Homo sapiens: one gene and its partners. The protein of the gene in region 1 purifies or fractionates together with the protein of each later gene. This does not show direct contact. Each region holds a gene or a part of one and is shown on either strand. Other genes may lie near its edges.

What was found.
Region 2: the proteins of DCUN1D4 (region 1) and TOP3A fractionate together in Homo sapiens (co-fractionation; one large-scale study listed by BioGRID). This does not show direct contact.
Region 3: the proteins of DCUN1D4 (region 1) and ITIH2 purify together in Homo sapiens (affinity purification with mass spectrometry; one large-scale study listed by BioGRID and IntAct). This does not show direct contact.
Region 4: the proteins of DCUN1D4 (region 1) and AFP purify together in Homo sapiens (affinity purification with mass spectrometry; one large-scale study listed by BioGRID and IntAct). This does not show direct contact.
Region 5: the proteins of DCUN1D4 (region 1) and PCK1 purify together in Homo sapiens (affinity purification with mass spectrometry; one large-scale study listed by BioGRID and IntAct). This does not show direct contact.

Annotation. Positions count from the first base shown.
Region 1 is NC_000004.12:51,839,964-51,846,943, reverse strand, and holds the start of DCUN1D4 (DCN1-like protein 4), read right to left. Parts: upstream 3,792-6,980; 5' UTR 3,702-3,791; coding exon 3,677-3,701; intron 3,373-3,676; exon of another isoform or gene 3,359-3,372; coding exon of another isoform or gene 3,202-3,358; intron 2,944-3,201; exon of another isoform or gene 2,872-2,943; intron 2,701-2,871; exon of another isoform or gene 2,601-2,700; intron 2,573-2,600; exon of another isoform or gene 2,545-2,572; intron 1-2,544. UniProt on the Homo sapiens protein: Contributes to the neddylation of all cullins by transferring NEDD8 from N-terminally acetylated NEDD8-conjugating E2s enzyme to different cullin C-terminal domain-RBX complexes which are necessary for the activation of cullin-RING E3 ubiquitin ligases (CRLs).
Region 2 is NC_000017.11:18,285,876-18,290,994, forward strand, and holds part of TOP3A (DNA topoisomerase 3-alpha), read right to left. Parts: coding exon 4,967-5,119; intron 4,812-4,966; coding exon 4,682-4,811; coding exon of another isoform or gene 4,647-4,681; exon of another isoform or gene 4,625-4,646; intron 1-4,624. UniProt on the Homo sapiens protein: Releases the supercoiling and torsional tension of DNA introduced during the DNA replication and transcription by transiently cleaving and rejoining one strand of the DNA duplex.
Region 3 is NC_000010.11:7,743,192-7,749,390, reverse strand, and holds part of ITIH2 (inter-alpha-trypsin inhibitor heavy chain H2 precursor), read right to left. Parts: coding exon 6,132-6,199; intron 5,310-6,131; coding exon 5,111-5,309; intron 4,601-5,110; coding exon 4,428-4,600; intron 2,799-4,427; coding exon 2,687-2,798; intron 205-2,686; coding exon 57-204; 3' UTR 1-56. UniProt on the Homo sapiens protein: May act as a carrier of hyaluronan in serum or as a binding protein between hyaluronan and other matrix protein, including those on cell surfaces in tissues to regulate the localization, synthesis and degradation of hyaluronan which are essential to cells undergoing biological processes.
Region 4 is NC_000004.12:73,433,489-73,440,387, reverse strand, and holds the start of AFP (alpha-fetoprotein isoform 1 precursor), read right to left. Parts: upstream 4,168-6,899; 5' UTR 4,126-4,167; coding exon 4,041-4,125; intron 3,229-4,040; coding exon 3,177-3,228; intron 2,215-3,176; coding exon 2,082-2,214; intron 1-2,081. UniProt on the Homo sapiens protein: Binds copper, nickel, and fatty acids as well as, and bilirubin less well than, serum albumin. Only a small percentage (less than 2%) of the human AFP shows estrogen-binding properties.
Region 5 is NC_000020.11:57,563,726-57,568,680, reverse strand, and holds the end of PCK1 (phosphoenolpyruvate carboxykinase, cytosolic [GTP]), read right to left. Parts: coding exon 4,954-4,955; intron 4,513-4,953; coding exon 4,288-4,512; intron 4,200-4,287; coding exon 4,068-4,199; intron 3,642-4,067; coding exon 3,546-3,641; intron 3,332-3,545; coding exon 2,877-3,331; 3' UTR 560-2,876; downstream 1-559. UniProt on the Homo sapiens protein: Cytosolic phosphoenolpyruvate carboxykinase that catalyzes the reversible decarboxylation and phosphorylation of oxaloacetate (OAA) and acts as the rate-limiting enzyme in gluconeogenesis.

The DNA of each region.
Region 1 (6,980 bases):
ATATGCACCTTCCTTCCCTGCTTTCCAATCCAGGCATGATGTCTGGTGCTACGGCAACCATACTGCAAACATGAGGCAAATGAGCCTGAGGAATAAAAGCTAAAACACTAATAGAAGAAGAAAAAGATGCAGAACCTAGATCCTTAATGACATCATTAAGCCACTGCACCAGCTTTAGAACCAACTACTTCTAGGTTTCTTGCTACCGAACAATAATAAGCCCTATTATTTAAGCCATTAATTTGAGCATTGTATTGGCAAAGGCATCCTAACTGATACAAGAGATCATCATGAGGTCAGTTTCTCACAGGTTGATTTTTATACTGCTAAGTTAGCAGGATTATTAGCTATTAATTATTAGTTATAATTAGCAGATGATGATTGAGATAATAATGTAAACGTAGCCAGGAAGAAGGTAATAAGCCAAGAAGAGCTGCTGGGAGCAACTTAACATAAAAACAGAAAAGGAGACAATGATAAAGTTTGAAAAAACATGATTAAGTGCCAGTAGGGGTACACAGAGTTAACAACAGAGGAAGAAGAGAGTGAAGTCCACTAAGAGAAAATGAGGCAGGCCTTCTTTTCTGGCAATGTTACAGACAAGATTACCTAAAAATCCTTCTTAATATAAAACAGTCAAAAATTCTGGATAACGTGTAAGAAACATCTGTTTAAATGCACAGCTACGTTCACAAGAAAATAAAGGACCTCCCCAAGCGCCAAAAATCAAAAAGGAACCTAAAAACCAGAGCAGAAAGTGTGTAGGAGCCTAGGGCTTTGGGGAATGGAGGGAGGTGGGCTATATGTGTATAAAAAGCACCTGCCCTTTGGGATATAATAGAACAAAAGAAAAAGAGAAAGCTATGACTAGCTTCATATTTTCTTTAAAAACACCATTTTGAAGACAATTATAGCTCTTGCATGTTTTTCAACCTCATCACTTTACCCTCTGCAAGAAAAAATTCCAGAGTTAAGTGCACATTTTTGTACATATTTTTATATTACCAAGAGTTTCCTGGATATTTCACCACACGATTAAGTAAAATATGACAGATAGATATAAATGATCTCCACAAGAACACCACACACATTGCCCAATTTTTCACTCATCATGAAAAGAACCATCAAACAATCAAGTATCCAAGTTCAGTATGTTTGTAACCACACCAAAAGGTTTACAAATCTTAGGACTTCTTGGTAATATTTTTATCATCAGAAAAATTACAATATTCTTCTAATGACTATGTTGCAAGTAGTTTCATAATACCTTATATATTACATACAAAAATCTATCATCTCTGCATTAATCTTAGCCTTCTACATTACAGATTCTGGAGTCCCTTCCCTGTAAACAGTAAAGGGAACTGGTGAAGGATGTGACGTTTAGGGAGTCTACTTATGGAGAGGAAGGTTTCTAGTATTAAGGAGAGAAGGAATTGCAGCCTGCAGCTAATAATAAAACAAGCAAACAAAAAAAGTCTTATGGTTCTCCACTTTTTACAGTTTTCTTCTATTCTCATTTGCTTTCCAAGCTTCTTCGAAAATTGAAGACGTCACATATTACCTTTGCTCACCTTCACATTTCCACCCTAAATTCCACTAACCCACCTCCATCACTCATTTCAAGACAGTTATTTTTTCAAACACCCCAAGAAATACCAACACATAGTTTATATTATCGTTACAAGGGTTACGTGTACCTCCACTGTGTTCTCATATTTATGCAAGGGAATGCTGGAACCCAGTGCTTACACACACTGGATGCCAAAATTAAATACACCATTCTAAAGGCTGCTTTACATTGTGTTGCTTCTTAAATGTTTTCCCACAACCCGTGCGCATGATGGTACAAGACCAAGCATTTATTCCACAAGTAAGGCCACAAAATGCAGGGGGAAATTCACTTGGGGACCAAGAACCTAAGCGTGAAGAGGGCTGCGCCTGGCGTGGGCTCTCCCTCTCCCAAGGGAGAAGGGCTGGGGAGTCGCTCCGTCCCTGGGAACTCAACCGCCTCCCGAGAGCGCGCAGGAGCTGGCCGGGGAATAAAGCACGAGTTGGCCGAGCAGGAAGGCTCCAAGGGCGCGCTGCATGCCGGGACCCGTTTCCACAGTTACCCACGTGCACCCAACCCAACCGCGGCCGGGCGCGGCCGCGACTACAAGTCCCAGAATTCGGCGGGACCGCCTTTCCCCTTCATACCCGTTGACTGGAGACAAACCCTAAAGGAAACCCCTCAAGCGCCCTCCCAGCACGCCTGGGAGAAGTCGCGCCCCCCGGGCGTGGGGCGCGGCCTAGGGCCCGGCCATCCCTCTAAGGAAGCGGGTTCCATGGCACCAACCCCCACACCTGATAGCCAGAAATTAGACAACTGCGTCACAGACTATCAAACCCACGGACTGCCAGGGACCCCGACACCTCCCCGGCGCCAAGCCCCCGACCCGGCCATCAGGGCCCGACCCCTCCGGCTCCCGCTGCTGAAACCCCGCAGCCCGCACCCCTGCCCCGCCTCCTAGTCCCGCTGCCGGAGCCCGCGCCAGCGCTGACCTCGCTTCCCGCCGTCCGGGGGGAACCACGGCCAGTTCCAACCTTAGGGCACTTACCCCGTCTCCTCCACCTCAGCCCCGCCCCCTCCTCTCTCCGCACCCCGAAGCTTGGACTCCCCCCTTCAAGGGACCCTGCCTCGACAGGGAGAGGAAGTACCTCCCCTAAGCACAGTCTGACACCCCCTTAGCCCGGCTCCGGACCGAATCTGGACGTGACAGTCCTCCTGCCCAACTCCGCCCCACCTCCCCTTCCTCCCCGACTAGCTCCTCACCCCCATTTCATATTCTCCACCCCTGCCCCCACTCTGCCACCCCAAATCCTACCCACCTTTTTCTCCTCTTCCTCCCAATCGCCCTACCCTTCCACACCTGCCCCATCTCTTTACCCCAACATCTTCCACTCCCACCACTCTCCGTTACCCACCGCCCTTCCAACGCCCCTCCCGCCCCGCAGGACTCCCCAACTACCATTACACCCCAGTCCCTCCCACCACCTCGCTTTCCCGTTACATCAGCCCTCGTCCAGTCGCCCGCCCTCCTGCCCCGCTCGGCCGCTGCCCCCATTCCCCCACCCCATTGTTCGCCGCCCCCCCCCCACCCCCCCGCCAACCAGCCCTTCTTCCCATTGTCCCCGCCCCCGCGCCCCCCTCGCACTCACCCGCCTTTCTCACGGAGCCGCCCGCACCACTCAGCCCTTTGGAAATCCTCACCCTTGTGCCCCGCTCGCTCGCTCGCTCCCTCCCTCTCCCCGCCGGTGCCACCCCCCCACATCCCCGGCCCTGCCCGCTACAGCCCAACGCTGCCTCCACCTCCATGCACCCCGGACACTCCGATCTCGGCCCTTCATCGCACGTCCAGCCCTCCCTTCCCCCAACACTGAAAGAGAGCCAGTCCCCACCCCCCTCACCTCCGCCCTCCCCGCAGGCCGGTCCCTTCCCCCCACGCCCGCCCCCGCCCCACGCCGCCCGCAGCGTCACCGCCCGCCCCGGCCCCGGGAGGGGAAGGGGTGGTTCCCAGGCAGGGGCTCCCGGCGCGTTTCGGGACCCGAGGCGTGGGGCGGGGACTGCGGGAGCCGAGTGGCGAGTTTGGCAGCCGCCCGGCCCCGGCCCGCTGGCTGGCTCTCTGCTACTCACTGACAGCGGCGGCATCCGAGTGCATTTTCAGGCAGCTCACACCCGGCTCGCCGCCCAGGCTCCCGCGCTCGCCTCGCGGTCCCCCCACCAGCTCACTGCACCTCGGCTCGAAGCTGAGGACCCGCCGCCGGGCACTCCCAGCCCGCCCATCTCGCCTTCTCCATTGGCTAAACCGCGGCTCAGGGGCCGCCCTGCTGCGTCTCTCATTTGACAAAAGGAGTGCCCATAGCGCCGGTCTGGAGCTGGCAACGAGGCCCCGCCCCCCACTGGCCAATACGATTGGTCCTGGGGCCTTGTCTCCGTAACGCCCCTGGCGGAGGCCATGCTCCGGAGCAGCGGGTTGGGCCCGGCTGCTGTCAGTCACCCCCAGGGGTCCGAGAGCGCGTGTAGGGGCGAAGCTGGGAAATTGGTCCACCTTGACCCTGAAACCCCGCCCAGTGGCGGGCGGGATTGGTGGAGCTGGAGACCCACCAAGAAAGATGGGTCGGCGTCTGAAACAAAGCACGCGAAGTGTTTCCCAAAGAATAGAGCAGCGCAGCGCAGTTGGGGGCGGCTCGTACCAGCTGCTGGAAGTAGGGAAATGCGTCCGTCCCTAGCGCCCGGCGCGACGCGGCCGGGTCTCCCGCCACTTGTCCCACGACACTTGTCCAGTTCGCGCCGAACTCGGACTGGGACTTCTCTTGTCAGCTGCTTCCTACCGCAGGAAACTGGATTAAGAATTGCCGCGTCTTAATTTCCAGCAAACCTTCTGGTGGGGAGCAAATTTCCATTTCTCCTACGAAGATCCATCCTCTCCCCACTTTCGAAATGTACTTCTTTTCCAGAGTCCGCATACTTGTTTCGCAGAGTTCGCACACTTCTTTCCTCTAGTCACTAATGTCTGTTAAAGAGGCTTCGAATGCCACGAGCATTGTCCGTCACACACATCTGTATGCCCCAGACATCAGACAGAAATACAGGGCCGCGCTCTGAGCTGCGGACTGAGCCTAACACATGGACGAGTCCAGGGGGCAGACCACCAGCCCGTGAAAGACCCCCGGCGGCATCTAAGAAAACCTGTCACTCCCGCGGAGAGGCCGTCCAGAAATTGAAACTGGCTGTTATTTGGCAGAGGGAGACGTTAATTTTGGTGAATTCTTCTGACCCTAAGTCAAGAATTCGCACCATTTCCATGAGTCCTGCCCTGATTTTTCAATACTTGAAGCTAACTTATCACACCGCATTATGGTAACAGAACAATATTTCGAGATATTAACGGAGGATTCCCCCCACCCCAACCCACCCCCACCCTACCCTGCCTCCACCCTCATCCCAGCCACCAACTCCAACAACAACACACCTACAAGGCATCCCCATATCCTAAGGCCCTGGGCCATCTGGGAGCCTCAAAGAGTAGGTGACACCACAAATCACAGGTAACAGAACGCACGGTCTTTTTGGTTTTAGATTTCTACAGCCCAGGCTTTTGGGTTTCCAGGCTCTGAAATTTAGATTTTAAATCAGGACACAAATGTTATGCTATTTGGAAGGGGCTCAGACAAACCAGTTTCTGTGTCCCACAGCACTCCCATGGTAAAATGCTCCCTCCATCTTAATCGCTAATTTCTCTTTAATAAATTACATCCTTATAATACTATTTATATAATATTTTTATCATTCAAACATTTATGAATCACTTTATGGAATCTCAGAACTGTACCTGAAGTTATTTATTATTTGCTTCAGGTTCTTTCGCAAGACAAGAATCTCTCATAGAACATCCTTATTGATCACCTTTATCATGACAGTACCTCAGCGGGGCCCCACAGTGATGGGTAGGTACCTCTGGACTCTGAGATAGGGGATTGCTTGTTGGGCAGATCTAGCAGTAAGAATATCCGCCCTTACTCTGAGCAGGGAAGCTGCTCCTGCATTCTTTATTCTATTTATGTTTCAGCTTAATCTACATCTAGGAAATAATAAATTATATGTCATTTAATACAAGTTTCAAATCTTTTGTGTGTGTAATATTTATGATTTTTTTTTTTACCGTTTACCATGGTACTTCAAAGACTGAGACACATGTTATTTTGCACAGAAAAGGGCTTCCTTCGTGACACCTCTAAATTACAATAAGCCCACAATTAATTATAGCTAGTCATTTGCTCTATTAATTTATTTGCAGCATACTTTATAATAATGTGTATAAGAGTTAAGCTAGATGAAGGATGGGTCGGCTGCTTTGCCCCAGCTCCCAACACTGGCCTGGCATATGCATGGTGTCCATAAAAATTTATAGAATGTACAACCTCTGTTATTTCTCAACATTGCTTTCAGTTGAGTCAGTATGATTATTTTCAAGTAGAAAACAGACTTAGAGGTAATTTACCCAGATCTTTATAAAGAGTCAGCTATAGCCTAAGGATTGAGAGGCAAAGCTCATTCCTAGTCGGCTGACCCTCACTGCCCCCACGTTTTACAAAGTATAATAAAATGACTACATAATGCTCTGCAAATATTACCTGGTCATTTAAATAATCCACACCATATAAACCTCTGATATCAGGAAACTTGTTATAGTTATCTTTTTACTTGCCTAGCACCTAGTACAATGCTTTCAAATATTGTGGTAGGCACTGGTTAACCATACCCCTTAAAATGAATGTTTACCGTACATGAAATTTTAGATCTGGATAGGAACCTTGGTGATTATCAAATCCAACATCTTCATTTTAAAAATAAGAGACTTGACATCCAAAGGAGTTAAATGTTTAATCTGAGTCACTTGGCTAGTTGATAACAAAACAGGGCTTAAATTCAGGTTTCTCAACTCTATCCCCTGTACCACACTGTCTAATATCAAAGCTTCAAATTCCAAAGATAGGTAAACTACTCTCCCTTCCCATCTGAAAGTTACTATGCCAATCTAATACAAGTCTGCTTCATGGTTGAAATGTTGCCTTCTTTTTTATGTATTTCATTCAGGATTTTTTTCAATATGTAAATCAATACTTCACTTTTTTTTTTCTCATTTGTAGTATTCCCAAAGAACATGATCCCCATGGAGAGGTTTACTGAGATAATAATGTTATACTTCTGTACATTTATATTTGAATCCCTGGAGAAAAAAATTAATAATTGAATATCTTGGGACTGTGATGGGTAGAGATATTTGGAGATGCAGTCTTTATGCCATTTCATTTCACCCAGTTACTGCTTTAAGGTAATATTGAAGCAAGTTACTCCATGTTAATGATACCTAATTTAATTGGAATTTTTCTATTTTATTAGTCATACAATATTAATTTTAATCAGATATATTTTG
Region 2 (5,119 bases), on another chromosome or scaffold:
TAGCTCTGCCATGAAGGAAATGCAAATTAAAACTGCAGTGAAGGCTGGGAGCAGTGGCTTATGCCTGTAATCCCAGCATTTTGGGAGGCCAAGGTGGGCAGATCATCTGAGGTCAGGAGTTCGAGACCAGCCTGGCCAACATGCTGAAACCCTGTCTCTATCAAAAATACAAAAATTAGCAGGGTGTGGCGGCACGCACCTGTAGTCCCAGCTGCTCAGGAGGCTGAGGCAGGAGAATCACTTGAACCCAGGAGACAGAGGCTGCAACGAGCTGAGATGGCACCGTTGCACTCCAGCCTGGGTGATGGAGTGAGACTCTCTTTAAAAAAAAAAAGAAAAAAAAAAGGGCTGGGCGTGGTGGCTCACGCCTGTAATCCCAGCAATTTGGGAAGCCGAAGCGGGCAGATCACGAGGTCAGGAGATCAAGACCATCCTGGCTAACACGGTGAAACCCCGTCTCTACTAAAAATACAAAAAAAAAAAAAAAAAAATTAGCCGGGTGTGGTGGCGGGCACCTGTAGTCCCAGCTACTCAGGAGGCTGACACAGAAGAATGGCATGAACCTGGGAGGCGGAGCCTGCAGTGAGCGGAGATCGAGCCACTGCATTCCAGCCTGGGCAACAGAGCGAGACTCCACCTCAACAATAACAACAAAAAAACAACCAAAAAAACCAGTGAAATAGCAGTTCAGACCTACTGGCAAAATCAAAAAGAGAGATAATACTAAGTGTTAGTAAGGATGTGGATAAACTGGAATCCTAGTGCCTTGCTGGTGGAAATGAAAAACGGTACAGCCACTTCAGAAAAGTTTGGTGGTTCCTAAAAATGTTAAATGTAGAGTTACCAAGTAAACCAGCAATCCCACTCCTAAGTCTACCCAAGAGAAATGAAAACACATATCCACACAAAACCTTGTACAAAACTGTTCACAGCAGGATTATTTATAATAGCCAAAGAGTAGAAACAACTCAAGTGTCCATCAACTGCAACCTCTGCCTTCCGGGTTCAAGTGATTCTCTTGCCTCAGCCTCCCGAGTAGCTGGGATTACAGGCGCCTGCCACCAAGCCCAGCTAATTTTTTCATTTTTAGTAGAGAAAGTGTTTCACCATGTTGGTGAAGCTGGTCTCGAACTCCTGACCTCAAGTGATTGGCCCACCTTGGCCTCCCAAAGTGCTGGGATTACAGGTGTGAGCCACTGTGCCTGGCTCTTTATAGGAAATAACTAAAGTAGGCAAATCTGGCCAGGTGCAGTGGCTCACTCCTGTAATCCCAACACTTTGGGAGGTTGAGGTAGGAGGACAGTTTGAGGGTGCAAGTTCAAGACCAGACTAGGCAACATAGCAAGACCCTGTCCCTACATAAAACAAAAAAGTCTGGCTGGGCATGGTGGCTCAGGCCTATAATCCCAGCACTTTGGGAGACCGAGGCGGGTGGATCATTTGAGGTCAGGAATTCGAGACCAGCTTAGCTAACAGTGAAACCCCATCTCTACTAAAAATACAAAAATTAGCCAGTGATGCGCACCTGTAGTCCCAGCTACTCAGGAGGCTGAGGCAGGAGAATCTCTTGAACCTGGGAGGCGGAGGTTGCAGTGAGCTGAAATCGTGCCACTACACTCCAGCCTGGGTGACAGAGTAAGACTCTGTCTCAAACAAAACAAAACAAACAAACAAAAAACCCAACAAAAAAATTAGCTGGGTATGGCAACACATGCCTGTAGTCCCAGCTACTTGGGAAGCTGAGGTGGAAGGATCCCTTGAAACCCAGGGTTCATGGCTGTGACCTAGCCTGGGTGACAGAGTAAGATGCTATCTCTCCAAAACAAATTTTTTTAGGGGCCGGGCATGGTGGCTAACACCTGTAATCCTAACACTTTGGGAGGCCTAGGTGGGCGGATCATGAGGTCAGGAGTTTGAGACCAGCCAACCTGGCCAACATGGTGAAACCCTGTCTCTACTAAAAATAACAAAAATTAGCTGGGTGTGGTGGTGCGTGCCTGTAAGCCTAGCTACTCGGGAGGCTGAGACAGGAGAATCGCTTGAACCTGGGTGGCGGAAGTTGCAGTGAGCAGAGATTGTGCCACTCCACTCCAGCCTGCAGCAACAAGAGCAAAACTCCATCTCAAACAAACAACAAAAAAAACAAAAAAACTGACTGTGGTGATAGCTGCACAACTTTGTGAATATGCTAAAAAATGTACATTATACATTTGAAGGAGATAAACTGTATGGTATATAAATAAAGCTGTTAATAATTATATATATATATATATAAATTTTTTTTTTTTTTTTTTTTAGATGGAGTCTCTCTCTGTCACCAAGGCTGAAGTGCAGTGGCACAATCTTGGCTCACTGCAACCTCCACCTCCCGGGTTCAAGCAATTCTCCTGCCTCAGCCTCCTAAGTAGCTGGGATTACAGGCGTCAGCCATAACACCTAGCAATTTTTTGTATTTTTAGTAGAGATGGAGTTTCACCATGTTGTCCAGGCTGGTCTTGAACTCCTGACCCCCTACCTTGGTCTCCCAAAGTGCTGGGATTATAGGTGTGAGACACAATGCCCAGCCTGTTAATAATCTTTTAAAAATATTATTATTATTTTTTTGTAAGTGTACCTCTATGTGGTTCCTTTACTTAGAAATCCTGGAAGACTCCCTGCTGACCATGTACCACCATCTAAGCCCTTCAACTGGGCAAGCCAAGGCCCTGCAAAGTCAGGCTTGGATCATCTTTCCAGGCTCACCTTCTATGGCCACCCCCCTCCAATCCAGCTACAGCAGGCTTCTGCTTTCCTGCTCCTGTGCCCTTCCTCAGGCCTACCCTGCACTGGGCTGCCCTTCGCTGATCCAGAAGTCTTACTATGAGGTTTTGGTCCAGCTCAAATGCCAGTCCACCCATCACATTTTCTTCCCTGCCTACTCCCTGCAGAACTATTACATTGTATTCAATGTGTTGGTTTGGTTCTTCTGTTAGATTGAGAACTTAAAAAATGAGGTCTTATTCCTCCTTGTGTCCCTGGTGCTTAGTCCAAGCTCTCACTCTTGTGGGCCTCACACTTTGTACCTCAGTCTCTGCCTTCCGGGCTCAAGTGATCCTCCCACCTCAGCCTCCCTACCTATAGGCATGCACCTAATTTTTTGTAGAAATGTTTTTTTTGAGATGGAGTCTCACTCTGTCACCCAGGCTGGAGTGCAGTGCTGCGATCCTGGCTCACTGCATCCTCCACCTCCCGGGTTCATGCAATTCTCCTGCCTCAGCCTCCCAAGTAGCTGGGATTACAGGCATGTGCCACCACGCCTAGCTAATTTTTGTATTTTTTTAGTAGTGATGGGGTTTTGCCATGTTGGCCAGGCTGGTCTCGAACTCCTGACCTTAGGTGATCCACCCGCCTTGGCCTCCCAAAGTACTAAGATTACAGGCATGAGTCACCGTGCCCAGCCAGATCTGTTTTGTTGTTGTTGTTGTTGTTTGTTTGTTTGTTTTAAGACAGAGTTTTGCTGTTGTTGCCCAGGCTGGAGTACAATGGCACAATCTCAGCTACAGGTGCCCACCGCCATGCCTGGCTAATTTTTGTATTTTTAGTAGAGACAGAGTTTCACCATGTTGGTCAGGTTGGTGGTCTTAAACTCCCTACCTCAGGTGATCCACCCAGCTCAGCCTCCTGAAGTGTTGGGATTACAGGCGTGAGCCACTGCGCCCAGCAAGATGGGGTTTTACCGTGTTGCCCAAGCTGGTCTTGAATTCCTGGGCTCAAGTGATTCACCCATCTTGGCCTCCCAAAATGCTGGGATTACAGGTGTGAGCCACCACACCCAGCCTTCATACATTTTTATCAAATAAATCATGACGGGTGAACCTCTACTAATTTTACCTAAACCTGCAGGGTTTCTGGATGTCCTAGTGATGGTCAAGGACTTCACGTTGAAGCACTGCTTCCCAAGTCATAGGCCTAAGAAACTCCCTTTGTGGATGACGCAGCTGCTTATGTAACACATGCCCAGGGAGCTCTGCTTCCCCTCCACTGTGCTGCAGGTATTCCTGGACTAGGTTTGCCAGAGAAAGCCCTTGAGAGCCTTGACAAAAACGAATGGAGGGGACAGCAGATTAGTTACAAGGCCCTACCTGCAAAGCTTGAGCCATGGGACTTATCAGCAGGGTCCTGGCACATACATGAGGCCAGCGTGAGCAGCCTGAGTGAGCAGTGTGGGTTCAGACCTGCAGAGACAGCTGCCACCCTCACCCAATGCTCCACATGGGAAGGAGGCTCAGGGCTCTATCTGACACTTCAAAATGAAGATAGATTTTATGATAACTGTCCCAAGTTTTAATTGTTGGTTCCTTACATGCTGTTCTTATTCGAAAGAACAACAAATCCTCATGTGGCCAATGGGTGCTCCCAGTTGGGCCCTCAAAGCCATGGGAAAAGTCTCTGTTACTATGTGGACAGCACAGTGCATGGTTTAAGAGCACTGACTGTGGAGTTATTCAGACCAGGTTTTAATAATACACACTTTGTGAACTTAGGTAAGTTCTTAACCTCTCTGAGCCTTATTTCAACTATAAAATGGGATAAAGATATAGCAGCTGCATTAGAGAATGGTTTGAAGACTAGAGGAAACCTGTACCTGGTACACTGTAAGCCTTAGCTCAAGAGATGCGAGTTACCCAGAGGAGCCACTGACCAATGCCATGCTTCTCCATGAGGGCAATGAGGTCGGCCTCGGTGAGCAGCTTGGGTGGGCTGGTCTCCCCGTCCACCATCTCCACGGTGCTGGGCTGAAAGTGGGATCCTTGCTCATAGACAGGGAGGATCTACAGGGAGCGGCAGGTGCAACAGTCAGATGATTCCATCAGCACACTCAGGCAAAAAATAACCTCATTTCAAGGAACATGATCCTGCTCCACTAGAGAACTCAGGGCTCACAACACAACTGTCCTCCCTCTCACTGGGGACCACTCTTTATTACCTTGTCACTCCAGTGATCATATGGATACACATCCAGATAGTTTCGGGCCAGAATCATGAGGCCATGGGCCACAAAGCGTTCCTGAGCGATGTCGATCTCCACTGTGGTCTCCTGCCCCTGAGCATCCTGGGAGCAGCAAGCCAGGAAATGGCG
Region 3 (6,199 bases), on another chromosome or scaffold:
AAAGTGACAGGGGAAAGATGTATATTAATATATATAATTTCCCAAACTATAAACCTTTAAGGCCGTTTGAGAAAGCTGTAGAGCTGAGGCACGAAGTAATCCTTGTAATGCCCGTCAATGAATCCTTTTCCACTGTTGTGCACAAACCAGCAGGTAACGTCCGTTCCAAACACTAGATCCGTTCTGTAGTCTTTCTGTAAGCCCCTGCAAGGAAGCAAGGCATGTGGTTAGGGGGAGACTGAGCACCTCTAGACACAAGACTCCCTCTTTTCCTTGCTGTTCTTCGTGTTCCTTCTGTCACCACATCTGCCGCCCCCCACCTATCGCTGCTCCCCAAGTCATGTGAAAAAGAAACACCAAGTCTGGGGCTTGGTGTTGGAAGCACAGAGAATCAGCGAAGCGTCCTTGGAGAACTCAAAGAACCCTTAGAGTTGACCTATATGGGCTTTTCCAGCGAGGGAAACAGTAGCCAATGGAAAGAAGGCAGGAACAAGACTCCACAGTGTTGAGGCTGACCTCACAGGTCACTTAAAGAATGAGTCAGCAGCCAGGCATGGTGGCTCACGCCTGTAATCTCAGCGCTTTGGGAGGCTGAGGTGGGCGGACCACTTGAGGCCAGGAGTTCAAGACCAGCCTGGCCAACATGGTGAAACCCTGTCTCTACTAAAAATTAAAAGAAAAATTACCTGGGCATGGTGGTGTACGCCTGTAGTCCCAGCTACTTGGGAGGCTGAGGCAAGAGAATTGCTTGAACCCAGGAGGTGGAGGTTGCAGTGAGCCCAAGATACGTCACTGCACTCCAGCCTGGGCGACAGAGCAAGACTCTGTCACTAAAAAAAAAAAAAAAAAAAAAAAAAAAAAAAAAAAAAGAATGCATTGGCGGCACCTCTTAACTGCACTTTCTCTGTGTTTAAGAGTGATACCTGCTGTTTCTGAGCAGATTCATGTCCTCCACTTGAAGGGCAAAGTAGCCAACAATTTGTTAAGGATCTCGTTCACACTGCGTGAACGAGACTTAAAAGTATCACTGTGCCCAGCCCACGGGACAGCTCAGTTTCAGTTATGAACCATGAGGTGCTTGCAGTGGACCAAATCGAGGCCCAGCATTTACTTTTTGTCATTATAGTAAATATATATATATATGTATACATATATTTATTTATATATGTATATATAAATATATATACATATTTTATGAGATGGAGTCAGGCTGGAGTGCAGTGGTGCTATCTCTGCTCACTGCAACCTCTGCCTTCCGGGTTCAAGTGATTATCCTACCTCAGCCTCCCGAGTAGCTGGGAATACAGGCGCCCGCCACCACACCCGGCTAATTTTTGTATTTTTAGTAGAGATGGGGGGGGTTTCAACATGTTGGCAAGTTGGTCTTGAACTCCTGACCTCAGGTTATCCACCCACCCAGGCCTTGCAAAGTGCTGGGATTACAGGCGTGAGCCACTGCGCCTGGCCTATTTATATATTATGTATTTATTTATGAGACAGGTCTCTCTCTGTTACCCAAGCTGGAGTGCAGAGGCACAATCATAAGTCACTTCATCCTCGAACTCCTGGGTTCAACGGATCCTCCCACCTCAGCCTCCTGAGTAGCTGGGGCTATAGGCAGAATCTACTACACCTGGATAATTATTTTTATATTTATTTTTATTTTTGTAGAGATGGAGTCTTACTATGTTGCCCAGGCTGGTCTTGAACTCCTGGTCTCAGGTGATCCTCCCACATTGGCCTCTCAAAGCATTGGGATTACAGGCATGAGCCACCATGCCTGGCAGTAAATGCCCTTCTACCAACTTCAGATAACTTACTATTAACATTAATAATTTGTGCTCACCATTGCTTCTGTGACACATGCTCACTGATTCCCGTCGGTACCTCATTCCTCCCATAAACTGATACTAATTGAATGGCATATTCACTAAGAATCCATTGTTTCAGTTCACAAATCTACTTTCGTGGCAATACTTCCGACTACAATTTTATGTTACAATGTTATGGTTTAATTAAGTATGTCAAAGCCAATGACATTTGTGGGCGTGAAGAATCCTTTCTAATAAAGCAAAGTTGGCTGCTTTGTAAAAACTCTAAAAAGGGGTAAGCTGCTTTAAAACGGTATCAAATTTGGCATGGGTGAGACAACTGTAAAGGACTGGGAAAAAATATCAAGATTTGTAAGACTTTTACACTCAGAATGCGTTATGAGCGTCTAAGTTCTCACTTCAGATGAAGCATATGGGGGTGGTTTGTGTAAGAAAAGCTACAAAAAAAGCAGTCAGAGATCCCTGTGCAAAAGGAAAACTCTAGCCTGATGTAAAAATCTACATTCATTCTGCAGCACTATGGTAATAGGTGTTTTATGATTCTCTCCTTTGATCAACGTGTCTGGTTATCCAACTTGTGAAGCTCTTGTGAGGGCTTCTAAAGTATGAAGATGAGAACAACAGGTTAGTTAATCTTGGCATTGCATGACCCTAGATACCCAGTCATTATTTGCATTTAACGTGGGATATCAGAAGTGTCCTTATGCGAATGCTGTGTGCGTCTATTCCTAATGAACTGCTTAGTGTGATGTAGGTAGTGCCTACGACACTTCTTCTTTGCTCCTCTATTTTGCTGTGTGGGTCTAATTCTAACACAAGGCCTTTTCGTCACTGTCCTTACGCCCGAGGCCTACCTGGTGATGATCAGCTTCTGCCCCTTCACTTCCATGCTGGCCTCTGGCTTCTCAGGGTCCTTTCCTGGTCTCTCATTGAAGATGTGTATCTTTGGTTCCTGCATGAACTGGCCTAGCAAAACAGAATCAGACATTGATTGACATGTAATCATAGTTAAATAAAAAGAGGCTCATTATTGACTCCATGCTACCTTTCGGTCCTCCCTCCAGGATTTCTAGGGTGGAAAGACAAGCTGAGAGGAAAAAGGAGTGGTGATGGGAGGGAGGGTCCTTCCTGGGAGCACATTTGTGCTGCTCACCATCTTTTTTTTATTTTTATTTTTTTAATTTGAGGCAGGATCTCCCTCTGTTGCCCAGGCTGGAGTGCAGTGGTGCTATCTCGGCTCACTGCAACCTCCACCTCCTGGGCTCAAGTGTTCTTCCCACCTCAGCCTCCCAAGTAGCTGGGACCACAGGCGTGAGCCACTACGCCTGGCTAATTTTTTGTAGAGACAGGGTTTCACCGTGTTGCACAGGTTGATCTTGAACTCCTGGACTCAAGCGATCCACCCACCTCAGCCTCCCAAAGTGCTGGGATTACAGGTGTGAGCCACTACTCACAGCCTTTTTTTTTTTTTTTTTTTTTTTTTTTTTTTTAAATTTAAGATTTGGGGCCGGGTGTGGTGGCTCACACCTGTAATCCCAGCACTTTGGGAGGCCGAGGTGGGCAGATCACCTGAGGTTGGGAGTTTGAGACCAGCCTGACCAACATGGAGAAACCCCATCTCTACTAAAAATACAAAATTAGCTGGGCGTGGTGGTGCATGCCTGTAATCCCAGCTACTCGGGAGGCTGAGGGAAGAGAATCGCATGAACCGGGGAGGCAGCGGTTGCGGTGAGCCGAGATTGCGCCACTGCGCTCCAGCCTGGGCAACAAGAGAGAAACTCCATCTCATAAATTAATGAATTAATTAATTTAAGAGATGGAGTCTCCCTCTGTCACCCAGGCTGGAGCACAGTGGCACAGTCATAGCTCACTGCAGCCTCCAATTCCGGGGCTCAAGAGATCCCACCTCAGCTTCCTGAGTAGCTGGGACTCCAGGCAGGCTCCACCATACCCTGCTAATTATTTTTATTTTCTAATTTTTTGGTAGAGATGGGGTGCCCAGGCTGCCCTTGAACTCCACAAGCAAATCCACCTGCCCAGGCCTCCTAAAGTGCTGGGATTACAGGCACGAGCCACCATGCCTGGAGCTCATGGTCATTTTATACATGAGGTTGGTCTAGTGGATTGTAAGTAAATCGAGCACCCTGATGGCAGGAGAATGAGGTGAGCACCTGAGAGTATAGCTCAGATCACAGGAAAAAGTTTTGTTTGTGATGTCACAGGCTTTATATTTGAGCCCTTCTTAAAATACTAGGGACATTTGTCCAGAGTGTTCTGCTTGTTATCACAGACCTCCTAAATGGGTTCATCTTGCTTCAGTTAGAAAAAAATCTTTAACATAAAACTTAAAATGTATCTGTCCCTTCTCTTAACTTGCCCAGTTTGTGATGCTGAAATCCTGGCCCTGGACAACCTTGTCTGGAATGGCAAAAGGTCCTGGCTGTCACATTCCCGAGCGACCCCACACTGCTATGTTAGTCCTCTGTGCTCATGAGTCCACACCTGCCATGTCCTCAACTTGTAACCACTGTCAACCAAAGCTGCTAAAGAATTAGAGCGGCCCCACCCTTGTCAGATGGTCAATAGACACTTTACCTATTAGTCCGTGGGCTTTAGGTGAGAACTTGTTTGTAGGGGGTATGTAGATTCCCAGAAAGTCAACATTGACGGGATGCTTCTTCCAAACACGATGAAGTAAAACAGAAAAGGACATCTCTTTATCCAGGGTGATAGTTACCACTTTTTCTTTCTTCACTGAGATCTGCACCCTGGTGTGAAAGTCCAAGAGGAATTAAACCATTCCAGAACAGACCTTTTGAGAAAGTCATTCTTCTCACCCCTAATATGAACTCTTCACTCCTCCCAGACAATTCCGCTAGTTATCTAAGCGCTTGCAACAGTTTATAGATAAATGATGGATTAACAGAAACTCATTGGGAAGCTTCTACGCAGAGGACACAATCATGGCGTTTGGAGCTCACTCTGCGATAGAGTCAGTATGGATTTCAGCTGGTGGATTTGTTCACTGATTAGCACATACACAGTGAGTGTTTACTGATGCCAGGCACTGGACTAGGTCCTGGGACCCAACGGTGACCAAAAACACACAGTGCCCACTGCCAGGAACAGAGTAGGGAGTGAGAACAATTTTTCTGAACCTCAACTTCCTTATATTTAAAATGATGATTTTTTTTCAATGTTGATGTCACTGATGCCTGGATTTATTTATGCAGTCGTGTGTCACGGACAGGCCCAAGTTCAGATGGAATCATACTTGCCTCTGATTCGTGACTTGAGCCGTGTCGGACCAGGACAAGGAGAATGTGCTAGAACCATGGCTCAGGGTGATGGTCTCAGTGCTGATTTCTATTTTTATGTCTTCACTTTGGAAATAAAATCCCAGTTTTCCAAAATAGGTGCTTAGTTTTCCATTGTTGGGCTTCTTGGCACCAACAAGCTGACCGTTGACTACAATTCCTACAGGAAAGAAAAAAATGATGTTTTCTCTTCTGTGCCATTTATTTTGCATGTGTGGGTACTATAATTCAAATTTATAAAAACTTGGCAATATTGGAAAATTATTATAATTTTGCTTCAAGATTTACATTAACATTTTCTTCTTTGTGATTCTCATTTTATAACATGTTAATATAACATTTATAAATTTTAATAAAATTTAATTTAATAATTTTATATCAGTTATAAAATTTAATTGTCAGTTTATAAAATTTAAATAATTGACTATCATATAGTATTTAAATTTTTTGTTGTTGTTTTTGAGACGGAGTCTTACTCTGTCACTCAGGCTGGAGCGCAATGGTGTGATCTTGGCTCACTGCAACCTCCACCTCCCGGGTTCAAGCAATTCTCCTGCCTCAGCCTCCTGAGTAGCTGGGATTACAGGTGTGTACCACCACGCCTGGGTAATTGTTTTTGTATTTTTAGTAGTGGGGGGTGGGGTTTCATCATTTTGACCAGGCTGGTCTCGAACTCTTGACCTCAGATGATCCGCCCACCTCGGCCTCCCAAAGTGCTGGGATTGCATGTGTAAGCCACCGTTCCTGGCTCATATTTAAATTAATTATATCACAACAAGATCTGCAAGTTCATACTCAGAGTATATATTTTGAACTATAATGGTTCAAAATAGTTAAGAATATATTTATAATTTAATTTCTCACTAATATCACTGAAATATATAGAACTTCTATTAAGCTGAGAAAGAAAGAAATCCCAGGCAGTGACAGGAAAGCATGACAATGACCTAATTGGTGCAAATATAATTTATTTTTATTTTACCTGATTCTGGGTCAGAAACCAGGTTGAGGATTTTTCCAGGTTCTGAGTCAATATTGAAACAAATGTTC
Region 4 (6,899 bases), about 22 Mb from region 1:
AAAAGCCATGCAATCTTTTGTTTCTCTTTCCCAATTTTGAATTATTTTATTTTTCCTTTTTGTGTTATCAAAAATTTGGACTAGGATATATAAACTTTTATAAATATATAAACCATGTTTCATGGACACAGGGAGGGAAACAGCACACACTGGGGCCTGTCAGGGAGTGGAGTGCAGGGAGGGAGAGCATTAGGAAAAATAGGTAATGCACGCTGGGCTTAATACCCAGGCAACAGGTTGGTAGGTGCAGCAAACCACCATGCCACGTGTTTACCTATGTAACAGACCTGCTCATCCTGCCCGTGTACACCAGAACTTTAAATTTAAATTTAAATAAAAAAAGAAACTGAGCAAAATAATATTTTCATGATTCTCATTAAAGATGTAACTTTTGGAATTGCAAATACATATGTATATATTATGGTATATACATACATATATATACATATACACACACACACACAGACATACCACATTTCAGACATAAATGCTCATTTTACATGCCATCCTTACAAGACAATAAAAAACTGCATATTATTTTCAATTATAAATAAAAATGATTTTGAAATGAAATAATTATTTTTTAAAAAAACACTTTTCTTGGCCACAATTACATATTTAGCTAAAATGTTTTAAAATGTATGTGTTTCCTCCTCTGTGACTTACCCTTACCAAACTCAGATGACAGCATCAATATTCCACAGAAAGCATCTGAGGAATACATGTGTTTCATGTATCTGAGGGAACTTTTATGTAGCTTTTATAGCTGCTACAGTAATATTTAGAGAATCCTGGAAGGCTTACGTAAGATTTCTAATTCCCAATCCTCATTTAAAAGACATACCTTTGAATTTACAAGAATAAATCAGCGATCTGTAACATTACCTTGAACCTCTAATTGGTTGTAAAGTTGCAATAGATAATGTATTCTTGTTTTTTTATACACATTTTGAAAAGATTATCAGAACAAGACAAAAATAGAGATGCAAAACAGAAATTTTTGTCAATTCATAAATTTCAAAGTTGGAAAGAACTTAAACTATATCCTTAAAGGAGCATCTCTTCTATGATATTCCAGGTACATTGTCTTTCAGCCACCTAATTAACCCCACCATAACAGAGTATTCTCTGGGCATGTTGTTTTATAATTGGAGAGTTCTAATCATTATCAAGTTTGTTTCTATGTTGAGATAAAATAAATAATAAATATTATTTGTTGAGCTTCTACAATGAAATATCCTTATACTAAGAAAAGTATTTAGTGTTTATCTAAAATTCAGATTGAACTGGGTATTATGTTTTGTTGTTGTTTGCTAAACCTGGCAACCCTAACGATGTGCTATGCATCTTACATTCACTATAGTTATAGTGTAATGAAGCTACTAAGACTGTCAATTTTAAGCCAGATGGTCTAGTTCAAATCCTGGCTCTGCCATTTGGTGGTTCCCATAAGAAAGTTACTTAAATTCTCTGAGCCTCAGCTTCCTCAGTTGGAAGATTAGCATCTATCTTCAAGGATTATTTTAAATGTTTAATAAATAAATATAGGTAAGCAAAGCTGATATCCTGCCCAGAAGCCCGAGCCAGCATCTCTTGACTCACTGGACAACCATTCTGATTCATCAGTGCTATCTATCCCCTATGTCATAAAATATTTTTATTATCAATATACACATTATGCTCCCTAGAATAATGCCAGTCACATTGTGTGTATAATAAAAGTTAGCTACTATTGCTGTTATATCAATTTCCATGCTAACTATGAAATGGGAGCTATTATCATCCCTTATTTTACAGATAAGAAAACTGAAGCTCAAAAAAGTTAATATGCCCATAGTCATCAAGATAATCTTATTTCAGAACCTTAGCTCTCAGTCATCATATTTATATGGTCTCTTTATAATAACTACCTATTGTTCTCTTCTGCCCTCTTTAGCAATTCAGAATGAATCTAATCCCTCTTTCATACAATAGCTCTTCAAATATATAAATGCATTTTTCACTGCTATTTTTGTATCTTCTCTTCAGCATGCTAAATTTTTGTCAAATATCACAATGCTTTTTTAAAATTATTCACTCACCTGGTTTTCTAAACACCCTGAAGACTGTTCATCTCCAGTGGGTTTCTCAATTGCAGTCAATGCATCTTTCACCATTTTGCTTACTTCCTTGTAAGTGGCTTCTTGAACAAACTGGGCAAAAAATATGGTAGCCCTGAAACAAAAATACGTGTGAATCCTTAAGGAACAGACCTGCAGCAAGCTTATTTTTCTCAAGTATAGTTTTTCATTTGTTTGTTTTGTTTTCTATTTATGTTGTAATCTGTTTAGACATTTGATTTGTAAAATTATGTAAAATTAGCTTCCAGGTCATCTGAGAAGAAACTTTAGTCTTTTTCTTGTTTTCTTTTGCCATAAATATACATATAGATGTTAAAGGCTAAAATAAGTGGATTTCCCATAAGAGTGGTTTCTCCTTCTGTGACCATCCATCTACTGTAATGTACCCATAATTGAGGGTATCTATATTCTTTATGGTTACTTTTAAATTTAAGCAAAAAAAAATTGGTAATTAGACAGACCTCTAACAGTGTCTATTCCCAGTATGATCAAGGTCTAAAACCCAAGACTACAGTGCTCATGGATTGACTCAAAGCAATCCTTATGCAGGTTTGGATGTGCAAGGAGTAACAGCAACACACTACTTTAAATTCTTTGTTAGAAATTTTTAAAATGTGGAATGGAAAGACATCCAAGAGACTAACATACTCTCCACAAATAACAGCAAATAGAATATTTTATCACCTATGGTTTGCTGCTAAGATTTAAATAGTATACAGAAAAGAAAACATTATAATATCACCCTGTTGGTACTGATGAGAAAAATTCCTGAATTAGTATATGGCTGTCACTGATCAGACACTAATCTTCAGTTTCTAAAATCTGATTTGGTTTGACTCATGAGATTTCAAGGAATCAAAAGGTCAATGTCGAAGACATTAGTCAACAGTTTAACCTCTTCAACATCAAGTTGATATTCAGTATGAGTAACTTTTCTTGAAATTGTCCAAATTGCTTTTGTGCTTTTAAGAGCTCACAGGGGTACCCAATTTTATTTAAGTATTTACTTATCCTTGCTTTACACATTTAAAGTACATTTATATAAGCAAAACTTACAGGTCAGCTAAACTTATCTCTGCAGTACATTGGTAAGAATCCAATATGGAAGCTGGAAAGCAAAATAAACTTCATGAAACGTGTTTTCAACTGCAACCAAGAAAGTAATCATTGTTACATATGAATGTTTGTGTTTCAGTTAGAACTGTACAGTTTCAGAATTAAAAGAACATTAGGGATAACCTAAGCATCTTAATTTTATACTTGAGGAAAAGAAAACTAGGAAACTAAGGAATGAAGTTAACAAGCATAATTTATAGTAGACCTATCACTAAAATCCAGATTTTGTCTTCCAGTTGTTTGGTTTTTCCCTGTACTGTAGTGCTGTAACTGTCCTGAAAGTCAAATGGTTAAAAATATATTTCAGGCATTCTTTTGAACATAGTTATACTACGGTTTGCCATTCATATCCCAGTCACAATATTTCTTCTTCAGACCATCAAATAATGACCCATTTTTCTGTATTAAAAACAAAGATTTTATCTATTTTACTAGTCTGAGGGAGTTATGTGAAGGAGCATAATTCTGGCTTCTTCACATATAAAATTTTATTTATATTCATATATATGTACATATATGTGTATATATATAATTTTTCAAAGTTAATATGCATACCATTGAAGTGTAAAAATTAATTCAACATGAAACATACAAACCATTCATCCATTAAACACTGCTATAACTTTGTAAACCTCTTGTAAAGTTACAAGTTTATCTTTCATTTAAATATATCCATCAGTTAAATATTTTTTCTCCATGTGGAATAATAAATATGAATAATAAATCAAGACAAATTAATGCAAATTTTATAATTTAAAAAATTTTGATATAGAGAAAAGACAAGAAAAACACAAAATATCTCACCTATTCCATATTCATTTCTATGCAGTGTTCTGGATTCAGTAAAATTTAGTAGGAAAATTAAAAAAATTGATTCCACCCACTTCATGGTTGCTAGTTATTTTGTTATTGGCAGTGGTGGAAGCACAATATGGAAAATCATGCTGAAATTCTTTTATACTCTTTTCAGGCAATGCCTGTTAACTAGTAACCTTTTGTTGGTATATCTGTTACTTTATGGTATTTCCTTAGGTTGAAAATGGGACATTTGCCAATAATTAACAGCATAGCGGTTATTTGTATTTTATGTTCAAGGACACAGAGCTCTTTGGGGCAGAAAAAAAAAACTTGCAAACTTATTTTATTTTGCAAATATAACAAATATTCTCCTCAAACTACAGAATATTCAAAGAGATGACTTGTCCCTAAGTTGCAGAATAATTAATTTCTCTCAAATTAAGTTAATGAAGCCATAAAGAAAAGACAGCAGATTTGGTATGCAATTCATCTAAATACATTAATTCTTTAAAACTATTAAATGCCTATCATATGCCAGGCACACAAGACATTGTCTGACCAATTCAGACTCTTCATCTTGCAAATATAACAAATACTCTCAAAGTACAAAAAATTCAGAGAGATGACTTGTCCCTAAGTTGCAGAATAATAAATTCATTTCAAATTATCATTGCTTGATAATTATGCTGTCATTGTTTAGCTCAGAAACACTTTTCACTTAATATGTATGTCAATAAGGTACATTTTAAAGTATTTAGTATGCGATGTATGGCTTAACATAGAAAACTTAGAGCACAAGCCCTAATAAACCAAGTCCTATAATAATTTTATTTGCACATGTGTCTTTATAAAGTGGGTCAGGTGCATCATTCACTTAGCAACTCAAGATGATGATGTTAATACTAAATGATGGATGCTAAGAGTGGCTCACCTCCTATCATCCCTGTCTACAAGGGTTCCCGATCTTGGCTACACATTAGAATCACTGGGGGAACTTTTTGAATTCCCAATGCCTAGTCTGTAACCCAGACCAGTTAAATCAGAATCTGTGGAGTTGAGACCCAGGCACCAGTATTTTCTAAAGCTTCACAGGTGTTTCATTATTCTAAAGGTAAGATTATAAAATCAAATAACCCACACCAGGAAATAAATTAATATGGTACATTCATAAAGTAGGGTGATATACAGCCATCAAAATAACTTTGTGGAAGAATATTTAATGAAATGGAAATATGCTCATAATATATTGTTAACTGAAAAACAGGACAAAACAATACATGGAGAGTGCTCTCATTTGTGTATCATTGTACCTCCTCTGTATTCCTCCCACCCTCTAAAAAAAATGTTGAATAAAAGACAGAAATAATGGACAACAAAGTTTTAACATTGGGTTTCTCTAGATGGTAAGATAAGTGAATTTAATTCTATCTCTCTCTCAAAACTTCTTCAATGAAAGAGCAGTATGCAATTTTAAACATAAAATTTTTAAATAAGCTAAGTACAGTACTTAAAAAATAGATCATACTGCAAGCTACTAGGGCACACATTTAAACAAAAAGGGTTTACCGTCAGTAGCACTTCCAGCAAATACAAACATTTATCATAGTATAAACAAGGTCTTCAATGCTAATCAAGTACAATTCCCATTCATTTGTTAGTTTTTGTCCATTTTCTGCTATGCGTGTCTCTCCTAAGTTTTGTCTCCTAAGGAACATGTTAACAAAACAGGCCTTGCTCACGTACTCTCCAGAAAGAGGTAGCACCATCCTTGTCTATCCGTTTGGATTCCAGGATAGTATTTACAAAGTGCAGTTCTTCTACTCTTCCTCAAGGGGGACTTTACTCAAATATATGAAAGCCAAAGTATTTGTTATGAAGGAATACCTGAAAAGCAATAGTCATGAAGTATTAGTTATGAAGAACTGAAATAGAGTTTTATGAAGCAAACTATATAAGCTTGCCCAAGCATGGGCAAAATATCCCAAAGGCTTTCACAGTGTCTGGTTCATAGCCAGGACTCAGCAACATTTGATGAATGAATAATAAATGTATTTGTTCCAACATGGGTTTAATGTAGAGAAAGGGGTTACATTTGGCAAATCCCAGATTCTATAAAGTCTGAAATCTTTATAACTTTACAAAACATATTTCAGCTTTTCTGATATACATATATAGATATAGATATAGATATAGATATAGATATAGATGTAGATATAGATATATCATCTTCAAGGCCAAGTAATCCAATCTGATCATCTCATCAAAAGATTAGAGGGGACAAATGTAAAAATGCCTGGCAAATGGTAGGCCTTTAGTAAATTATGACTATTTCAATATTACAAATATATATATAAAAATACACACACAACTACAAATAATATGTACACATCAAGCCAATGTATGTTGTGTCAGCCACCAGTTCATCAAGATGTCGATGCGACTACACCAGGAGTAACAACTTTTCTATCAGTTCAGGTCCTGTTTGGACTTTTCCTCTGATATTATGCTGGTTTTGTGTCATCCTCCAATCTCCTTCCATATTCTGCCTTACGGAGCAGATGTCTGCATTCCATGCCATATGATCAGAGAGGCAGTATAGCACAGTATTAATCACGTAAAGTTGGGGAACTGGTTTGAATTTTTGCCCTGTCACTTAGCTACATGACTTTGGGTGAGTTAATTCATTTCTCTGGGCTTTATCTTTATCAACTATAAAATAAGGATAGTGATAGTACCTCCTTCATGGTTAAATGAGAATTAAATAAATCAATAAATATAAATGCCTCAGAACCGGGTCTTGCACAAAGTAGCACTCGATAGATGGGGTTTTATTTATTCATTCAATAAAATGTTAAGTCTGCATTC
Region 5 (4,955 bases), on another chromosome or scaffold:
AGGGAGCTCAACAGGGCCCATGACCTGCGGTCTTACAGCCAAAACCGTGCACTCTGGAAGGTGCATGCTGTTGGCATCCAGAGGGCCGAGTGAGCAGCCCGGGGGTGTCCAGGTTAGGGTGGGTCCCCAGGGAGAGGGAGAGAAGAGAAAGAGCCCTGTAACTCCTGACTCCCAAGTGTGCCCCGGCCCCACCTAGCCACCCCGCCTGCCTACCTGTCAGTGCCCCCTAAGTGACTCGACTGGGAATAAGGGCAGGTTTGTTGTCCTGGTTCAACATTTGCTGTGTAACTATTGTTTTCTGGTCTTTAACCCAGACTGCAACACAGCTTCCTGGAGGTCAGGGGACAGCTCTTACACTGGACTCCAGTAGAGGACGTCAGTCACAGTGTTGGTTTTGGAGTCATGTGGTCCAGTGGTAGACCAGGAATCAGGAGACTCTGGGCTTTCCATCTCACTCCAACCGTATTTTCAAGTGATGAGCCTCTTGCCTTCTGTGAGCTTCCTGCAAGTGGGCTTAGCTTACATACTTTGCATCATCTGAAGGCACGACAAGAGAACATTGAAGAAAGAAGTCATAGGATCCTGTTTATTGTAGACAGGGGTCCGCGCACAAAAATCAGGATTTGGAGACAGAGGGAGCACTCAGGAGGCATGGTTTGGGGAAACTGAGTCAGGAGTTAATGACATATATTGAATCTTTTTGGTCTCCTGAAAACTCTTATGCTGTGTATGTAAGTCACCTCCTCTAGGCTGTCCCCCAGGCTTGCAGGGCCTGCTGGCAAATGGTCCTATGTGAGACTGCTTGCCAGGTGGCTGATGCTGTGCAGGAGGGGAGGGAATTTGGAGATGGCCAGTGTCTTTGCCTGCCGAGGGAGTGGAGACTACTGAAAGCCCGTAATAGGACAGTGGGGCACAAGGCATGCATTTTAACAAAGTTTATCCTGGTGGCCTCTTTCAGGGGTCCAAGGAGCTGCCCAAAGGCCCCCAAGGGGCGGGGAAATGGAGACCAGGTGGCTTGCACTTTGGACTCCCTCCCCAGCTTCAGGTGGGCTGCCTTGGGCTCTGTCTCCTTTAGACATGGGACTCTGAGTCAAGTACATGTCAAGAACGTGTTCCGCAGTGAAAAGGAGAAACAAGTTTGAACGCCACTGATTTAAACTAATACAGCAGATAGCATTTAATTCCAGTAAGTGGTTTTTCCCCTTCGGTGGTTTTGATATTCTAACAAGCCAACGTGTCTGGAGCTAAGACTCTCAGCTCCTTAATGGGGAAGGAAATCCTGGCAATTTCTCAGCCCCGCTGGACGCTCCTAGCTTGACCTCAGTTTCCTCACCTGTAAAATTGGGGTGATCTCAGCTTCACCTTCCATATGAAGCCATTGTAAGGAGCAGAGGAAGTGAGGAAAAGAGGCAAGTTTTCCAGTTGAGGAGACTGGAGGGGTGGAGTGTGACATAAGAACAAGCCTGCCCGCTGGGGTGTGGTAGGGGTGAAGCCAATTTCACAGCCTGGGCCCAAGAAAGAAACTACAACTTGAAGATAATAGTATTTACACAGATTGAATCTGTGATATAAAGTTTATGGTTCGTTTGGACTGTTCTGGAATATCCAATAAACACTGGGAGTAGAGGAGAGCAGGTGAGGGTTCAAGGCAGAGCTGGGGACCAAACCACCCACCTCTCTTCTCGGGCAGCCCATGGTGTTGGCATGATGTCCGGGATACAGAAGGCGCTCAATTAATGCTTGCTCAACCCAGATCCTGTCCCCTTTTCCTTCTCACTTGTCTTCCTCTGCTCCCCCGCGGGGATGACAGTTGAGAAAACTGTTGCTTTGAAGAGTTAAAAGGCAAAATCCTATGAAACTGTCCACAATGTAATTTTTGTGGAAGCCTGAGACCCCTCCAGATCCAAACTGTCAAAAAGCATGCATTAAACCCTCCCAGTCCTGCCACATAAGCCTCACCATCTAAAGGTTTGTAGAATTGTTAAAGGATGCCAACTAGTGGCTTCAGCAAATTCAGAAAACCCCAACCATGGTTCCCTGCCTCATTCCTCCCCATCTGCTCCCTCCTTCTCCCTGGGACCAGGCAATGCACCCCCTCTTCAAGTGTGATTCTGAACGTCCCCACCTTCTTGGGGAGGGGGCAGGATTTAAATCACAAGATATTTAATCAGAGTTCTCTCCTCTTGGTAGCTCAAATAAGAAAAACCAAGCAAAGCAAATCCATCTTTTCTATAAAACTTCATTTTGTAATTTTTTTCCAAGAAGTAGTAAGGGGGAAATATTGCAATTATGTAAAGGTAAGGAACAATGGTGTATAAAAATAATTTAAGCACAATATTAATAACAAAGCAACTTTTTTTCAAGGAAAACTAGTAGGTCATCTTGCCCAAGATTTTTCCAAAGGTATTAAATATATTTTCAATAACAGTACATACAAATACACATACACAAATATACCACACAGACACATGTGCACATACATGCACACACACACACACACACACACACACACACACACATATATATATACAGCTCAAGTATTTTTTTGGTGTGCATTCTAGCTAATCCACATAGCTAAAGTGAAAAAACACTGAAAAGATCAATGCCTGAGTAACCTTAAATTTGAACAAACTATGCATTGGATGTGAATTTTTGGAGGCATGCTAAGATTTCCCTTCTCAATTTCATTAGCTACTACCCAGTGTTCTGTGGTTCTTATCCTTAAAAAAATCAAAGTGTGCCTTTCAGATCTGCTCACGGTGTGGTGATGATTATTATGGTGGCGTCAATTTGGGAACACTTGCCCTCTCTTGCTCCTACTGCACCTTATGGATGGGAAAGGGAATGATTTTAAAGGTAAAGCACTCAGGCCCTGATTACATCTGGCTTATTCTTTGCTTCAAGGCAAGGATCTCTCTCTCGATTTCACAGGGGAGGTCGGCATTGACTTGATCCTCCAGATACTTCTCGATGTCTTCCACCTCCTTCTCCCAGAATTCCTTGGAGATGCTGAAAAGCTCCATCATGTTGATGTGCCCCAGGCCTTTCAGGTTCAGGGCATCCTCCTTGGGGATGTAGCCTATGGGCGTGAGCTTGGTGCTGGCTTTTCCATCGATCCGGTTGAACATCCACTCCAGCACCCTGGAGTTCTCTCCAAAGCCTGGCCAGAGGAATTTGCCTTCCTTGTCCTTCCGGAACCAGTTGACATGGAAGATCTTGGGCAGTTTGGCTGCTGGGTGCTGGGCCATGCTAAGCCAGTGGGCCAGGTATTTGCCGAAGTTGTAGCCAAAGAAGGGCCGCATGGCAAAGGGGTCATGCATGATGATTTTGCCTGTTAAACAGAGAGGGAGTTCATTAGTAAATGAGGCTCTCCTAGGCAAGACTGACGCCATTGATTGTTGACATTAGCATGCTTTGTTCTCCTCTCTCTCTTTCTCTCTCTCTCTCTCCCCACACACAGACACAGAAAAGGAGAGAGACATAAGAGTGACGAAGAGTGCTCTAATCCCACTTCTCTGTGGTTTCAGATCAGGACTTTGATTTACCTTTATGTTCTGCAGCCGCTGTGGCCTCTGATCTCATGGCCGCCCCCACAAAGACTCCATGTTGCCAGCTGAGAGCTTCATAGACTAGAGGGACACCTTTAGCAGGAAAAAAAAAGAGAAATGTTCATCAGAGGCTTTGAAATTCAGACTCCACAACCAGTGGTGTTATTCACAACACGGAAAGACACGGCAAGACAATAACTTTGTAATCGAGCTAGTTTTGCGTTCACCAAGCTAAATTGCAGAAAACTGCTAACTCAAAGTTACATGACTGAGGCCACAAAGTAAAAAGTAAAATTTGATCAAGCTACAATAGATCAGGGATTCAGAAAGGTTCCAGGTGACCAGAAGGGTTGGTTCTACATTTGAACTTGCCAATTATTCTGGATCTTTGGGAAGGAAGCTCAAGAAAGGAAGCCCCTGGGCACCCTCTGACAAGGTCATGGAAAAGGAGAGATTTCACAGATGCCCTTCGGTACCCAGCACACCCATGTTCCCAGCCTAAATGAAGGAGAGCCTCACCAGCAGGTCTACGGCCTCCAAAGATAATGCCTTCAATGGGAACACCTTCCGGAGACTCCCAGGCAGCATCAATGATGGGGCACTGGCTGGCAGGGGTGCAGAACCTCGAGTTGGGGTGGGCACAAGGTTCCCCTATAAGACAGAGAAAGGCTCGTGAGTGCCTGGCTCAAACAGGCAGTCCCTGCAGCCCGGCACACCAAGGCCTCTGGCAGGGACACACCATCCTCTGAGCTCCACTCCTTATTCTTCCAGGACGTGATGGTGACACCTGAAGCTAGCGGCTCATCAATGCCTTCCCAGTAAACGCCCCCGTCGCTGGTCTCGGCCACATTGGTAAAGATTGTGTTCTTCTGGATGGTCTTGATGGCATTGGGGTTGGTCTTCACTGAAGTCCCAGGAGCGACACCGAAAAAGCCATTTTCTGGGTTGATGGCCCTTAAATGACCTGGAGAGTTTTAAACCAGAGAAGCAGTAGTGAGTGCCAGGCAAAGCAGAACATATACTCTTATATATTGCCGGACTAATTTCTATGCCAACTTCTCAAATCTTTTTTCCCTCCCTAGAATATGCATTTATCTCTTTTCATCCAAGCATCATATGCAACTTTGATACGTTTACGACTCTTGCTTCCTCCACAATTTTCCACCAATACCATTTAAACAAATGTATGTATGTAAACAAACAGCAACATATGGCCCAGTTTCAATCCAGATTGAATATTAAGTTGAAGAATTCTTACAGGATCCATATTTCTAAGGCTTGGCCAACTCTGGACTAACAGAGTTTAAAAATCCAAACACTGGACTGAGGAGAATGTGACATGTTTCGAAGGCCAACGATTCGCTTGAGTCCAATCGTTACCAAGAGTTGGGTCTAAAAGAGTCACCT